Linked DNA regions of Homo sapiens. The protein of the gene in region 1 interacts with the protein of each later gene in a pairwise test. Each region holds a gene or a part of one and is shown in the gene's direction. Other genes may lie near its edges.

Region 1 (8,871 bases):
TTACATGAAGACAAGTTAAAATTTCAAATGCATTTGTCCTTTTCTGTTTCTTACTAGCTCTTATTCTTATCTAATACTCTGCATCTTCCTTGTCTAGATTCAGAGCCCCTCAGAAGCACTTTTCTTTGGCTTTTGGGGACATATTGCACCATTCTTCAGATCCTAGTCTAGTGAACTCTTTTCCCCTGCCTGCGATGTGGGGTTAAGACAATTTAGGAATTTGCTATATTTTGGTGTCTGTCATACTGTAAGCTATGAGAAGTTTCAAACGACTGGCAAAATGGTGGACCCATACTGGACACTTCCAAAATGGGAAATTTTACACCGTTTATTAGTGACACTAGAAAATACTTTGCCAGACAAACATAGGAAAAAGGACAAATCCCAGAAGAGGATCTTGAAGTGACATCTCCAAACATCAGCTCTACACTATCCCTGTTGATAGTCATTTTTAATATTAAGAAAAAAAATTTTCTGTTGTAAGTTGTTATGGTAAAAGAGGGCATGTACATCGTACCTTGTACTATAGAAAGAAACCCTGGTATATGAAAGCTTTGTCTTTAAATGGAGATTTTGTAATGCCTGTTCCCGTTTTCCAGAGTCATCATGACATCAATGATGTTGTTATGTGGTCAATGATGTCAATATGACTCAAGTCACTTTGGGTTTTTCATGTTTTACAGGAAACTCAGAAATTCCTCATGTAAACAATCAGACAATTGAGCAAATTGACCTGCAAACACATATAACAGAAAACTACTAAAGTTCTTCTGCTACCGCACATGATTTAGATTGCCTTCTATACCTTTGTGAGTTTAACAGTGAGGGAAAAGTTCTGATCTAGGAAAAAGGGAATGGGTTATAGGAATTTTAGATTCTAAATAAATTTTAATCACCAACTGGCAAAATGTCATTTGCTTATAACGAGCCCTTGCATTTTCCTCTGAAAAACTGAAAATACAACATATAGAGAGGGTAGGAAAGTCCCCGCCCATTACTGAGAAATTTTTCTAATAACCAGACTATGTATCTCACAGGAAGGAAAAAGTAGATTGTCTAAACATAGCCTAGTGATTTATTAGCATATTAATTTGCTTTGCCTTCCCTGTTGTAGGAGGGAGAGGGAGAAGAAAGGAGAGTATGGGTGAGGAAATGAGAGTGCAGTGGAGGGAAGAGAGAAAAAGGGAAAAAGAAAAGGAGAGAGAGAGAGAGAGGAAGAGAAGGCAAGAGGAGGGCATTAGAGAAAGAGGAGAGAAGGCAAGAAGAGGGAAAGAGGAGGGGGCAGCAGGAAAGGAAGGAGAGGGGAAGGAAGGACAGATAAGGGGAGAGGGAAGAAGAGAGGAGAGATAATTTTGTGTGTGCTCTGTTTTTTATATTTTCCCCTACCCATATAGAGAAGATGCTGTAGGTTCCTTGGCAGAAATTGCTTAAGGCAAATCTCATGACTGGCATTTGAGAAAGTTTTTGTTATGTTATATTGGTTATCCCCAAGGGGAAGTTTGGAAAGAGTGATTGGGTGTGCAAGGCCCCAGGGATATGGTGAGGGGAAAGGAGAGGCAGGAGGGCAGAGAGAAGGAAGCTAATCTGCCCCTCCCATCTGGGAACTTCCCAACACCCTGTGTAAAGAAGAAAGGAGAGTTCCAATAATGACTCAGAGTAAATTTTCCTCCTAAGAAGTCACATGTGAGCTCTGCGTTTTTATTTAATTAAGAAAAATAGCGTATTGTGAAATTTTCTGTTTACCCAAGTTTGAGACTGCAGTTTTTTTTATTAGTTCTTTCCTAACTTGTCTCTGTCTTTAATCTCATTACTCATTTCACATACTGAGCACCCAGCATTAGAGTGTTATGATCAGCCTGGTAGTGCAGCCTTGGATTCTTACATAAAGAGTTTGCTGATCTGAATTTAATTTAGTTAATGATCCAGCAAGCACCCATTTTAGTCTACTAAATGCTAGATACTGGCCTAACTATGGCGAAAATGCCCTGAAGAATAAGAATAAAGTTCATGGTTCAAGATTACCTTTTGAGAGGACAAAACTTTCCCATATTTCCAATAATCAATTTTTAGAAAATAAACTAGATCTTAATTAAAAAAAAACAAATTAACCAATTCAGTAGATATTTATTTAGCTCCATACATAGGTAGAGCTCTGAGGAGGATAAAATTAGTCTTTTCCTCTCGGAAACATATCATTTTATAAGCAGGATGCCATACCTGGAAATTAATAGACAACTCGGAATTGTACAACAGCTTATTCTGGCAACACTTTTTTTCTTCCTGTTTCCAAAAGGAAGGAATGGTATCTCACAGTGTTCTCTGTTTAACCTTGACTGCTGGCCCTGTAGCGGGTCTTGCTTTCACCCCTCCCCGCATGACTCGTTCTCTCATAATTCCCTTCTGTATTTAGCGGCCTATGTTATTATACAAGTTTTGCTCCCCATTACATCCCTGGCATTTCACTTTGTGCTTGGTACAGAGAATATGCTTAATACTTTTCTTGAATGAATGAAAGTGTCAACTGAAGAATGACAGGTTCATACATTTGGAAAGGAGAGCTTCATTTCACATAAAGGATTGCAGCCTGCAGGGTGATCATTCTGACCTCTGAAAAGTATAGCCTCTAATCAGAAGCTGGAAACAGACATTTTGAGGGAGGAGCAAAGGAAACAGAAATTTATGTTGAGCAGGGTAGCTGAATATATATATTCAATAAGCTATAGGGGAAGCCATGAATATTTGTGAAAGGAGAAATGTGCACATGCACAATGGAGTTTCATGCTTCTCCATGGGATCCGTGTTCAAAAAATGACAGCATTAATACAATCTGAGGGGGCAGTTTTCAGCCCAATGTGAAGCAGAGGACATGAAAACCTTTACTGCACATTCTCCATAGACTAGCCAGAAACATTCCATGATCAGTATTTTCTTTTTGTTCCAAACCACAAAAGAGAGGGATAACACCAGGTGATGGTTGATGTCATTGGTGTAATCTTTTGAAATGACTGGTTTCTTTTTAGCCATAGGGCAGAAAGCCTAATCATAGTTAGTGATGGAGCGGGTATGTGTTCCACTTCCTATCCTGTCATGGCCAAAAACTTAGTTTTCAAGTTTACTCTGGGATCCCCTTGGCCAAGAGCGTGTCCGTTCAGTTAATCTAGGGGCTTGGGATTTTATTTTTATTCCTCAAATGTAACAAATTTAAAGAAAGAAAGAAATTTATAAAACATAAGAAATAGAAGTATAGCTTAGACCTCCAAGCAAGTTCTTTAAAGGTGACAAGTTAAACAGTAGTTTTTAAGATAATATTTTGATGAAATTTTTAATCATATTATTACAAGATTTTAGAAGAAGCAAGATCTTGTGAAAACAAAACCTTAATGTCCATATCTAGCTCTCTAAATCTATAGTCAGTCTTTAAAAGAGTGACACAAAAATGACACAGATCCGCCCTCTGGTTCGCTCCCCATATATTAGAGCCTGGTAATCTTCCAAAGTTTTTACAGCATGAGGCATACACAGAATAGATGCAAAAAAAGTACACCTTCTGAAATTTCCTGAATGGATTCAAACTTTTACTATTCTAAGTTAATCAATTGGTAGTCTACTTACTTTATAGGATTATTGTAAGGATAGGATCAATGAAGTGAAATATATTTTATTTTCACTGGTCAATTACTCGTATTAAAGCAATTTCATGCACTTTATCTCCCTCTCTTGGAAACTGGAGAGTAGTACTTTTTGTCTGGTTACTTAAGATTAAAAAAAAGACAATATGTCACTTTTGACTTGAGTGTCATGGTATCTATGGCCTTCAACCTGCATGGTTTTATCGTTTCAGTAATCTTGGGAGGAAGGTATTATTAAGTTCATTTGATAAATAGGAGACTGAGCCTCCACAAGGGTTAAGTGAATTGCTCAGGGTTATACAATGAACACTTGATAGAAATGATTAAATGACACTTTACTTGATTTGTTGTGGGTTACTAAATAAAGCATAGGTGTGCATAAGTCATTCAATTATTCAAGCACATTCTTCATCCCTAGTCCTAATATCGAAAGTCTTTGCTCTTAGTTTTTATAACTACAAGGATATTCATCAAAAGACCCAAGCTCAGGAATAAGCCTAAAGAGGTAGTCAGACTAGAACAAAAGACAATTCACAGACTTAAATGAATAATTTGCATTAATGAAGTTTGCCAGGCTAGTTTCCACTTGAATCTTCAGATCTTTCTTCCTTCATTGTCTTGTTAACTGTCCAGATTTATTACCTAGGAGTTTTTGAAAACTCACATATTAGGCAATAGAGTGTATTCTGGAATTGAGAGCCTATTTTAAACTTTTGACTAAAAAGTTTACCCATTAAATGTCATAGATTCAACCATCAGACTGAAAATCCTCAGTGTATTTGAAGGAGGGTATTGTCTCAAAAATCCAGAGCTCAAAGTGAAGAAGAAAGGCAAAATTTGGAATTTAGCTCTAAGACCAACTCATCAGTTCAGGGGTCAGAGATTTATATAGTTAAAGGACAAGTGTGTGTTTACCTGAGTTTAAAGAGCAAAGTTGCCTCTGGAAAGAAGCCCTCACTGGAGGCTCTGGCATTTGAAATGGTGGGCAGGAGCACATGTTGCTTAAATTTCTGACAGTGGCTGGAGATTACCGATTGGTTAGGGGAGAGGAAGTAAAGTAAAATATTTATAAATTCTCCACTGGGTGGAGTCTGAGCAGTTCTTTGAATTTCTCACCCTAAGATCTGGCCTGTACATTTTCAAGGAATTCTTGAGAGGTTCTTGGAGAGATTCTGGGAGCCAAACACTCCATTGGGATCCTAGCTGGTAAGCTTGAGGCGCTGATAAAAACTCTCTACCCTAATGTTTACTCCATGTTTTTTCCAAATGAAACTTCTGTCAGCTAGAATCCTTGTCATAGTGTTTTAGAGGTTTTTTTCTGCTACTCTCTTCTTTTTTTATATATATTCTTTTTGTAAATAAAAATGGTATGACCTTCCTAAAGGCCCCACCTTTAGAAATGGGTTAAATGAAAAGATCTTTACTAATGTAATAGAAAAGAACTGATGAACATAGTGCACTGAATATGGTTACATTTGACAAACCAAAGTTAGTCCTGTTCTTATTTGAGTTTAAGCGGTAAGATTAGGTCAAACTCCAGACGAGGGAAAGATATTCTTAAACAGATTTTAAGTCCTCTGTTTTCTGGTAACTTTAATTGTCTTATGCTGCTAGTAGTCATATTAAATATTTATTTAGAGAAGTGAAAATGCCTACTCTTGAACAGAGTTTCTTCCCCTTTCATTTTATGAAACCTAAGAAAAGAAAGTTGATACACTTTTTAAAAATATACTAGATTTTCTTTTTTCCTTTCTGCTTTTATTTTGAGGCCAGTGGGGTGTTATTTAGTAGTAACACTGAAGCAAATGTATTGATTTTCTTAACGTGTTCAGCAAGTAATTCATATCCTAGATATGAAATATACACTCGTAGCAGAGTAATGTTACCCATTTCTCAATGATATGCTTAAAGAATCTTGCTCAATATGCATATTGTTTTTCCTTTTTTCTTTACTAATGAAAAACTACACGCTTTCTCAACATATTTTTAAGTCAGGTTCTAAACTTTGAACTCCTATGTACAATTTGCTTATTTCAGGCATGAATGTGAAACTGTGTAAAGATTAACTACCAGACACTCAGTCATTTATTTAACTATTTAGCCCTAAATCAGTGGGTGACTAGGAGATTCTGAATTCTGTGATTTCGTTAAAATCAATCAGTTTTTAATTATTATACAAGCTTTTTACTTTAAAGTTGTAGCTGTCTAAATAAAATTGTGAAAGCACAATTTCCAAACCTAAATCGAAGGCACATTGATGCTGTCCATCAGAAGGTATTGATAATTTAAAAAAATATTACAAACTATCTTTTATCTTTTTATAAAGGACCTAATGTCATTTGAGCTTAACCATAATCCTTTGAAGAAAGTAAAATTTAACTTTAAATAACATTGACATACAGAGCAGTTAGGTGATTTGTCTGAGACCATATGGTATGTATGTCCCCCGTCTTGATAAAATTAACACTAAATATGTAACATTTGAAAATTTGTAAAATATGTAAAAGTTGAAGTTTTTAAAAGTTTGGATTTAAGTTCTTCCTTTCAGAATATGAGCATGTCACTTTATTTGCAAACTAAACATGGCATAACATTATGGCTTGTGAACACTAATTGTCTTAGCTGCTGGGGTGAATGCAGAATTAAGCAGCAATTAGTATGAGTGAATAAATTGCATCCTTAGAGTGAGTGCACTATGCTATTCTGGGAACTAAAGACTATATTTGAGACCATGCGAAGTTGTGCAAGTGGTGGAGTAGGGCAGGGTGCAGTCATTTGGAAGACTATGCCCATCAGGTATCTCAAGGTACCCCAGATGTGACAGGCCCAGGAGCGGAACCAGCCACTTTAACTTTTGCCTGGCTGAAACTGGACTGGGAAGGATGGATTAAAAAGGTAAATCAATTCATACGTAGCTTGTGGTCCTTTGCAGCTTAAGTGTAGGACTGAAAAAAGAAGCCAAAGAAAAAGGGAATGAGCTGAAGAAATACACACACGTACACACACACATCAGGAAGCAACAGGCAAGGAAAAATAAAGTGAGAGGTTCAAGGCTTCGAGGAGGAATTGAGCTCTGTGCATTCCATTCATGGGCTTTGCCAAAGACCAGCACAATGGACTCAGCATCTCAGGCATGGTTAAGTACCCTACTGTGCACTCTGCTATCCTTTTAGTCCACTGGTTTCTACTCTGTCTGTGCCAGGTTTTCATCTCAATATAGAGGAAAAGGATTCTGATGCCTCAGGATTATTACAAGCATTAAATAAGATACAGATAGAATGACGCTAATGAGTATCATTTTTAAAATAAGGAAAGTTGAATTTTATTCAGAATCTGTTGGTAACAAACTAATCTCTTTATTTAAGTAACCCCACTTAGAGTTTAAAGTCACCTCCAATCAACTCAAAGGGCTGACCTCCCAAAGAAAGTCTCAAATATAAGGCAAGCTCTCTTGATTCTGAATTTCATTAGAAATGTTTGTCTAAGTCTTTCTCATATGGTCAGAATGAGAGAGGGTGCCCTTCTAGTAATATGTCATTATGTCAAATAATTCATCAACCAATTTTGTTTATTCTCTCGAACTGCCACTTTGGCGGCAGGGGTACTCTGTCTAAATGAGATGTCTATAAAGATAAATTAAACATGATTCAGGCCCCCAGGTAGAGTTCAGTTCAGTAGGGTAGAACAGCAACTCAGTCCAGCTACCATCAGTAATATGTTTGTAGTAAGACTAATCTGATAGTAAGGCAGAAAAACATCTCATGGAATTTTAGGAATAGCCAAGAAGATGGGTCCCCTGGAGACTTGCACATAGCATGTTGCATGAAGGATTCAGTGACTTGCAAGATGGGCTTGTCTTGTCACCTTTTCAGGAGACATAGCTGTTCAATCCCTTGCCATTGTGTAACTAAGTGACTCTTACTTGCTGCTGGAATCACTTCATGCTTTTCATGCTTTAACAATCAGTGGTTCTGTTTTACTTTGAAAAATGAGTCATTCTATGACAGTATTCCTCCTAGACCCTAGCATTTCATAGCTTCTATCTATGATTATTTTAAATTCTAGCTCCTGTATCTAACTGAATGAATAAGCACATCCCACAGCTCAGATTCCTGAAAGAATTTGATTATGTACTCAGCTAAACATCATCACTGTTTGGTTAGAGCTTTTATAGCAAATAATTCACAGATCTTTGATGAAACTACATTGTCTTTAGTGGGTAAGTGTCCAACAGAGGTCTAATAAACTATGACCAGGCAATTGATAATGCCAAGCGGTAGAGACACAGTGATCTCTCTTCAAAATGCAGTTTCCTTCATCAGAAAGCTATGTGTGGGGAGCCATTTAGAATCAAGTTTCAGGCATAGCAAATGTTTTTGATCTTTCCTATCCATACATATGTCCAAATAAATATAGTACCTGGCAGAATGTATTATTATCGTAAGTAAAGTACATAAGTGTGCTCTTAATTGTTATTGGTGTTCAGAGGAAGACGGGCTACTTTTGCCTGAGACATCCTAACAGGCCTCTTGAAAAAAGCATTGGAGCATTAGGTCTTTGAAGGTTGGCTAGAATCCAAACAAGTTGAAGGGGAGCAAAACATTTTAGGCAAAGGAAATGGCATGAGAAAAATCACAGAAATAGAAAATTTCATGTGGAGGACAAATAATACTTATGGTCAGATATTGAAAGCACCATCCATCAATGTTGAAATCCTACACTTTTGTACAGAACCATGGATTGAAGCAGTTAGGAGTCACAACTGATATCAAAGTAAAAAACATGCAATGGTGAACCTTGGTATCTTTGTCTAGGAATATAAAGAATGGCTTATCAGTGGAGACCATCGACAGTTGAGAAAAGAAGAAGCCCAAAAAGTACAAGAATGAAAATCGAGAGTGTAAGAAGAATGTCTGTTTTACTGGCATTATCTAACACTCAGATATGCAACTCTTTATTGCCAAACACTGTGTGTGTTAGTTAAGGTAAAAGGTGAAGGGAGGCAGAAGAATGGAGATTGAATTGAATTCTAGAGCTTTAGTTCTGTGTGAGTTTGGGCCCCCAGAAGTTCTAGACATTAAGTACAGTCTGAATTGAGAAATATTAAACATATCTTGTGATCCAATATTCCCCTAAGTTATACACTCAAATATCCAATGACCAGCTTGACATTTCTACCTGCATGTTCAATACTTATTTGAAACTTAATATATCCTAAATATAATTTTTTTTTAAACAGTCA
Region 2 (7,000 bases), on another chromosome or scaffold:
GTCCAGTTTCTTCCCCTACCCTGATTTTGTAGCTGAAATATGCACATTCTATGGGTACTGACGCTCTAACTAGAAGGGTCAGGCAATGCATTCTCTTTTCTCTTGGGGAGTTCATTACAGACCCCCAAATATGGAGACACATCATTGATACAAGACTTGAAATATATAACTTGTTGATTATTGCTAAGGTACTGACTAAAGACAATTTTGAAACAAAAGTAGGAAGAAAAAATAAATCTCATAATCTCACTACCTAAAGACGGCCACTGTAAAGTAAAAGTTATAAAAATGTTTACCATCATTGCATGCTTACTATGTGGCAGATACTTTGCTAAGAGAAAAGTATCCTTTATGCTTTGTGTCATTTCATCCCCACCACAACTCCCTAAGTTAGATATTCTCCTCATTTTGGAAATGAGAATATTGAGGCTCAGAGGAGCAGGTGATCACATCTGGTAGGTGGTAGAGCTGCAATTTGACTCCAGGTCTCTTTGTCTTCAGAGCTGTTTCTTTATTACATGGTTACAATGATAATACATCACTTTTTAAAAAAAAAATTCACTTGCCATTGACTTGGCATACATTAAAAAAATTTGTTTAATTCAGACAAAACAGACATGAACGGCTTTGAAAGTTCATCATAATGGAACCATCTGGAGATAACCACTGTTAACATATTTATGTAAATTCTTGTTCTGTTCATATATGAATGTCTTTATATAAACATACATACACATGGGCTAAATACTATATGCTATGTTCTTTGGCTTTTTTTTTTTTTCATTTAGCAGCATTCCATCCTAGTATGATTTATCTCACGCCTTCCTTCCCCGTGCTTACCAGCTTTCTGCTGTTTGGACACGTCATGTGTGTTTAACCATCCCCTGATGAGGGTTGTCTGGGGTGAGATCCTTCGGGGCAGAACAGAGGAGCCTTGTGCAAGTGACTTATTGAGAACGTGCTCTCGGAAGGGAAGGAGGAATGCAGCCTAGGGTGGGGTACTGCTGAGCGAGGATGTGGGCTCAGCGGCTGTCCAGTTCAGTGTGACCCCGCGGGGAGCTCTCGAGCATGAATTGCTCCACAGAATTCATCCCACCTGAGGCAAGGGCGCTGTGGAGCATCCATTCCACTGGCAGTTCTCTGTAGAAGGTGGTGGTGTGAACTCTTAGCCACTAATAAGGGGCATCTGGCAGCATCCACCACGAGACTGAGTCCCAGTTTTCACAATTTTAAACCCCACTGCAATAAACATTCTTATACATGTATCTTTGGACATATTTATTCAACTTTTTCCCCGAGAATAAATTCCTAGAAATAGAAATACTCAGTCAAATAGATTTTATCTTTTTTTATTTTTTAATAGAGACAGGGTCTTGCTATATTGCCCAGGCTGGTCTTGAACTCCTGGGCCCAAGCAATCCACCCACTTTGCCCTCTGCAAGTGCTGGGATTATAGTTGTGAGCCACTGTGCCTGCCATTTTTTTTTTTTAAATATTGAGCTCAGCTGGGGGAGGTGGCTCACGCCTGTAATCCCAGCACTTTGGGAGACTGAGGCAAGCGGATGACCTGAGGTTGGGAGCTCGAGACCAGCCTGACCAACATGGAGAAACCCCATCTCTACTATAAATACAAAATTAGCCAGGCGTGATGGTGCATGCCTGCAATTCCAGCTACTCGGGAGGCTGAGGCAGGAGAATCGCTTGAACCCGGGAGGCAGAGGTTGCAGTGAGCCGAGATCATGCCATTGCACTCCAGCCTGGGCAACAAGAGTGAAACTCGTCTAAAAAAAAAAAAAAAAAAAGAACAATATTGAGCTCAGCTCATCTGTATAGTATTTCAGAATATGATACTGAGGGTGCTTTATTATGTATTTAGGTATAACTATTCTTTTATATTTTTAAGTAGGCAGTACACTTTCTTGTTAAAAACAGTTACAACAAAACAGTGTAAACAATTTCCAACCCTCCTCCTTTATATGTCCCATGGTCACTGCTGTGGTGACATGTCTCCTTGGCATGTCTCCTTGCAGATTTTTCAATGCATGCAAAAACACATACTTATTTTTTAATATAGAAATGGGGGCCGGGCGCGGTGGCTCACACCTGTAATCCCAACACTTTGGGAGGCTGAGGCGGGCAGATCACTTGTGGTCAGGAGTTTGGGACCAGCCTGGCCAACATGGTGAAACCCCATCTCTGCTAAAAATACAAAAATTAGCCGTGCGTGGTGGCTCATGCCCATAGTCCCAGTTACTTGCGAGACTGAGGCAGGAGAATCACTAGAACCCAGGAGGCAGAGGTTGCAGTGAGCCGAGATTGCACCACTGCACTCTAGCCTGGGCAACAGAGCAAGACTCTGTCTCAAAAAAAAAAAAAAAAAATATATATATATATATATACACACACATATATATAAAATATAGTTATATAATATATAATATAAATGGGATCTTAGAATACCTATTCTTCTGAATCTTACTTTCCCCTCCAATTAATTTATACTGGATTTCTTTTTTTCTTTTTTTTTTGAGACAGCATCTCACTCTTTTGCCCAGACTGGAGCACAGTGACATGATCTCAGCTCATTGCAAACTTCACCTCCACCTTCAAGTGATTCTTGTGCCTCAGCCTCCCAAGTAGCTGAATTACAGGCACACGCCACCATGCCTGGCTAATTTTTGTATTCTTAGTAGAGAAGGGGTTTTGCCATGTTGGCCAGGTTGGTCTTGAACTCCTGACCTCAAGTGATCCACCCTCCTCTGCCTCCCAAAGTGCTGGGATTATGGGTGTGAGCCACTGCGCCCGGCCTATAAGTGGATTTCTTTCTGTTCTTAGCACATAAAAAGTGTCCTTTATGTGTCCGTTGAAAGAATAAAAAAAAATCAGTGTCCTTTTTAGACAGCTATTTAGGATTCCATTGACTGGCATGAATCACAGCACCCAAGTGACCCCCAGTACTGCCTGGTAGCCATGTCCATCTCCCTAGTTCATTCACTATCTCATGCTACTCTCTTAATGACTTTGGCAACCCCTCTTCTCAAACCTCCAATACCTCCTTGCACAACCTCATTCTCAGCTAAAGACCTTGCTTCTTATTCCACTGAGAAAAATAGAGTAACCAGAAGAGAACATCTGCAAGCATCCTCCGCCACATCTGTCTACTTGCTTGCATCTGCACCCGTGTTTGTGGTTTTCCTTTCTGATATGGTGGATGGACTCTCCTCATACCTGCCTGGTGCCAATTCCTCTGGCTGGGCTCTGGAAACCCAGCTCTCCTGTCACTCCTGCTCAAGGACATTCCTTCAGCAATTCTCCCCTCTCTCTATTGCATTGTCAAATGTTCCCGTCAGTTAACGCACATGCTGTTATTTCTCCATTTTTACAAACAAACAAACAAACCCCTCTTGATCCCATAGCTGTCTGTAGCCAGGATCCTTTAAAGCCCAACTCTTCCAAGCAGTTGTCTATATTGTTCTTACCAATCCTCTCTTTCTCTCTTTTTGACATTTTATTAGTCAATTTCCAAAGACACATACAAGTAGGGAGTACATGGTCCCTCCTTCATTCCTAAATTTCAAAGCTAATACCAAAAAGCATGTCATTTCACCCCGCAAATTCTTCAGAATGCATCAAAATAATAAAAGGGCATTTCCTTACATGCCACAAAGATATTAGCATACTGAACAAAATTTGCAGTAATGATTTGATACCATTTAATAAGCGGTCTGTATTCAACCTTCTTCAGTTTTCTAGTTTGTTTTCATCAGCATCCAAACAAGGGCCACAGTTTTTATTTGGTTGCTATGGCTCCTAAATCTCCTTTAATCTAAAGCAACCCCTCTGCCCCTTTTTTCCATGTCACTCACTTGTTTGAAAAACCAGGCCAGTTGTCCTGTAGAATGTCCTGCGTCCTGGATTTGGCTTATCGCTTCCTCATGGTGTGGTTAAACTTGTTCTTCTGTCCATTTTCTCTTGAACCCTCTCCAGTTAGGCTTTCACACCCAAACACTCCATAGAAACTGCTTTAGTGAAAATTACCAATGACCTTGTATTGCTAAATATAATAGTGGATTTTCAGCCCTCATCTTCCTTGACACATCAGCAGCACTTGGCTCTGTTAGTCTCTCTATCATACCTGAAATGCTTTCATCATTTATTTCCAGGATGCCATCCTCTTTAGTTTCTTCCTATGTTGTGGGCTGCTCCTGCCCAGGCTCCTGGCTTGGTTCCTCCTCACCGCCTCACTGTAAATGTTGGAGGCCCCAGGCTCCGTCTCTGATCCTCTTTACCTATTCTCATTTCTTTATGATCTCATCCAGCCTCCCAGCTTAAAATACCATTTATGGAGCTGGAATATGAACGTATGTGTATCTGATTTTAGAGATGGACTAGGCAGGCCGTGCTGCCCACACAGGGCTCTCACCTGCCAAGGTCCTCACCATTCTGTCCCCTCTGTCCTGCAAAAGGCTTCCTTTGTTGGCCAAACGTGAAAGTTTGAATTTGGCTGGTAGGAAACGCACAAAGGATAGGGATGGGTCTCAAACTACTAAGAACAGCCATCACCCTGAAAATCCTCTAAATAGCTGTAAAGACTAGTTCCAACTATGAGAAAAGAAATAAATGTAACGTTCTTCATTGAAAAACAACAACAAATACCAGTAAATACCAGTAAAAGCTCATGATGCCCAACATTTCACCTCCAGGTCAGTTTTCTCCAGATTCACACATCTATCTCCCTCCTCAGCACCACTACTTAGATGCCTACAAGTCTCCTCAAACTTAGTGTGCCCAGTTTTGGAGACAATTAGCAGAGTTTGGATATGGACTAGATATTAGGTAAAACAAAAATTTGTTCACTTGGAAATGTGGAGATCTTTAACTTGTAAAGATCTTGATAAAACAAGTTACAGGCCGGGAGCGGTGGCTCACGCCTGTAATCCCAGCACTCTGGGAGCCCGAGGGGGGGTGGGGGGCGGATCACAAGGTCAGGAGTTTGAGACCAGCCTGGCCAACATGTTGAAACCCCATCTCTACTAAAAATACAAAAATTAGCTGGGCGTGGTGGTGCGCACCTGTAATCCAGCTACTCACGAGCCTAAGGCAGGAGAATTGCTTGAACCCGGGAGGCGGAGGTTGCAGCGAGCCGAGATTGTGCCATTGCACTCCAGCCTGGGTGACATCTCAAAAAAAAAAAAATTACAAAACATGTATGCTATAATTTTATTTTGGTTAAAACCTCATAGGAATATAGTCATTGAAAAAGATATGAAAGGACATACACTAAGGTGTTAATAGTGGCAGTCTCTGGGTGATAGATAATGGTATTTTTCTCTTTTTTGTCTGATATCTGTATTGTCCAACTTTCCTCAGGGCCCATATATGCTTTTTTTTTTTTTTTTTTTTTTTTTTTTTTTTGATGGAAAATCACTCTGTCACCCAGGCTGGAGTGCAGCAATGCAATCTCGGCTTACTGCAACCTCCACCTCCTGGGTTCAAGTGATTCTCCTGCCTCAGCCTCCAGAGTGGCTGGGATTACAGGCATGCGCCACCTACGCCCAGCTAATTTTTCTACTTTTAGTAGAGATGGGTTTTTGCCATGTTGGTCAGGCTGGTCTCGAACCCTTGACCTCAGGTGATGCGCCTGCTTTGGCTTCCCAAAGTGCTGGGATTACAGGCGTGAGCCACCGCGCCTGGCCCATATATGCTTTTTTATAATAATAAAAGGCTATTTTAAAGTTAAAAGAACACAGGTCTAAAACTGAACTCCTGATCTTTCCCAGAACCTTCTCCTCCCTTTGCCTTCCCCATCTCCGTGAATGGCTGCTCTATCCTTCCAGTGGCTAAGGCCAGAAACCTTGCAGTCATCCTCTCTCACTCATTGCCCATACCCATGGCTTACCTTTAAAAAATATCGAGAATCTGACCATTTCTCACTACCTCCACCATTATGGGCAAAGACCTGCATGGGGAATTCATGCAATAAACACAAATGGCCAAAGAACTTCGGAAACAGTGCTAAACTTCACTGAGCAACAAACACATGCAAATTAAACTCTGAGGTGTCATTTTTGCCCATCAGGTGGGCAAAGATTTCAAACAATCATGACACCCGGTGTCGGCAAGCTTGGTGAGAAACAGGCATTCTTACACACAGCATGCCATGCTTCGAGAGGTGGGGCCTGGAGTGTATGGGGGATGGGGTGGTGAGAGCCCGCTCTGGCCTTTCCTGGCAGTCCCTACGCTGGACCTGGGCAAGAAGCTGAGCGTGCCCCAGGACCTGATGATGGAGGAGCTGTCACTACGCAACAACAGAGGGTCCCTCCTCTTCCAGAAGAGGCAGCGCCGTGTGCAGAAGTTCACTTTCGAGTTAGCAGCCAGCCAGCGGGCGGTGAGTAAGCCACCATTGTGCTCATGGGGAAAATGAGGACCACAGAGAGCCACTGGTTAGCCTAAAGTCAAACGGTAAGCCAGGCTGAGGACTGTGATGTTCCCATCAGATTAGGCTCCTGCCTTTCAGTGTGATCCTTGAAAAGTGTTATCTTTTTAGGCATCTCTCCCTGGATACAGAACAAAGTAAACAAAGTGGATTAGGGGGTTGAGGATAAGCCGTGGAGTGAAGGGACTCTGGCTCCTACCAAAAAAAAAAAAAAAAAAAAAAAGCTAAGACAGGCATGCACTCTAGGCTAAATTTGCAGCAGGCTGGATCTAGTTTAGACTTGGGCCTGATCTAAGATGGAAAATGTAGAATGCCCTTTTTTCTTCTTCCCACCGGAGAAAGGAAAGGCCATGGAATAATCTGCTGGTGGAGAAGAAAGGCAAGAAGGGTTTTTCCCTTGGCTTCAGAAAGGCAGCAGGCAGTTCCAGATACTTCTAAGGAAGCCAGGGCTATTCCATCCACCCTCCACTTAATTTCTGGGCTAGACAGGAGGCAACTGAGAGGGAGTGATGTGGCAGAAAAATAAAGATGGCAAAACACCCGCCTTTGCTATGTGCCTAAGAC

The links.
Region 2: the proteins of KYNU (region 1) and MYOZ3 interact in binary tests that used the Homo sapiens proteins (3 or more experiments, as listed by UniProt).

The regions. Positions count from the first base shown.
Region 1 is NC_000002.12:142,872,902-142,881,772, forward strand, and holds the start of KYNU (kynureninase), read left to right. Parts: upstream 1-4,762; 5' UTR 4,763-4,835; intron 4,836-8,443; exon of another isoform or gene 8,444-8,871. UniProt on the Homo sapiens protein: Catalyzes the cleavage of L-kynurenine (L-Kyn) and L-3-hydroxykynurenine (L-3OHKyn) into anthranilic acid (AA) and 3-hydroxyanthranilic acid (3-OHAA), respectively. Has a preference for the L-3-hydroxy form. Also has cysteine-conjugate-beta-lyase activity.
Region 2 is NC_000005.10:150,664,251-150,671,250, forward strand, and holds part of MYOZ3 (myozenin-3), read left to right. Parts: intron 1-1,263; exon of another isoform or gene 1,264-1,781; intron 1,782-3,866; exon of another isoform or gene 3,867-4,022; intron 4,023-4,135; exon of another isoform or gene 4,136-4,348; intron 4,349-5,072; exon of another isoform or gene 5,073-5,180; intron 5,181-5,899; exon of another isoform or gene 5,900-5,959; intron 5,960-6,233; coding exon 6,234-6,388; exon of another isoform or gene 6,389-6,557; intron 6,558-7,000. UniProt on the Homo sapiens protein: Myozenins may serve as intracellular binding proteins involved in linking Z line proteins such as alpha-actinin, gamma-filamin, TCAP/telethonin, LDB3/ZASP and localizing calcineurin signaling to the sarcomere.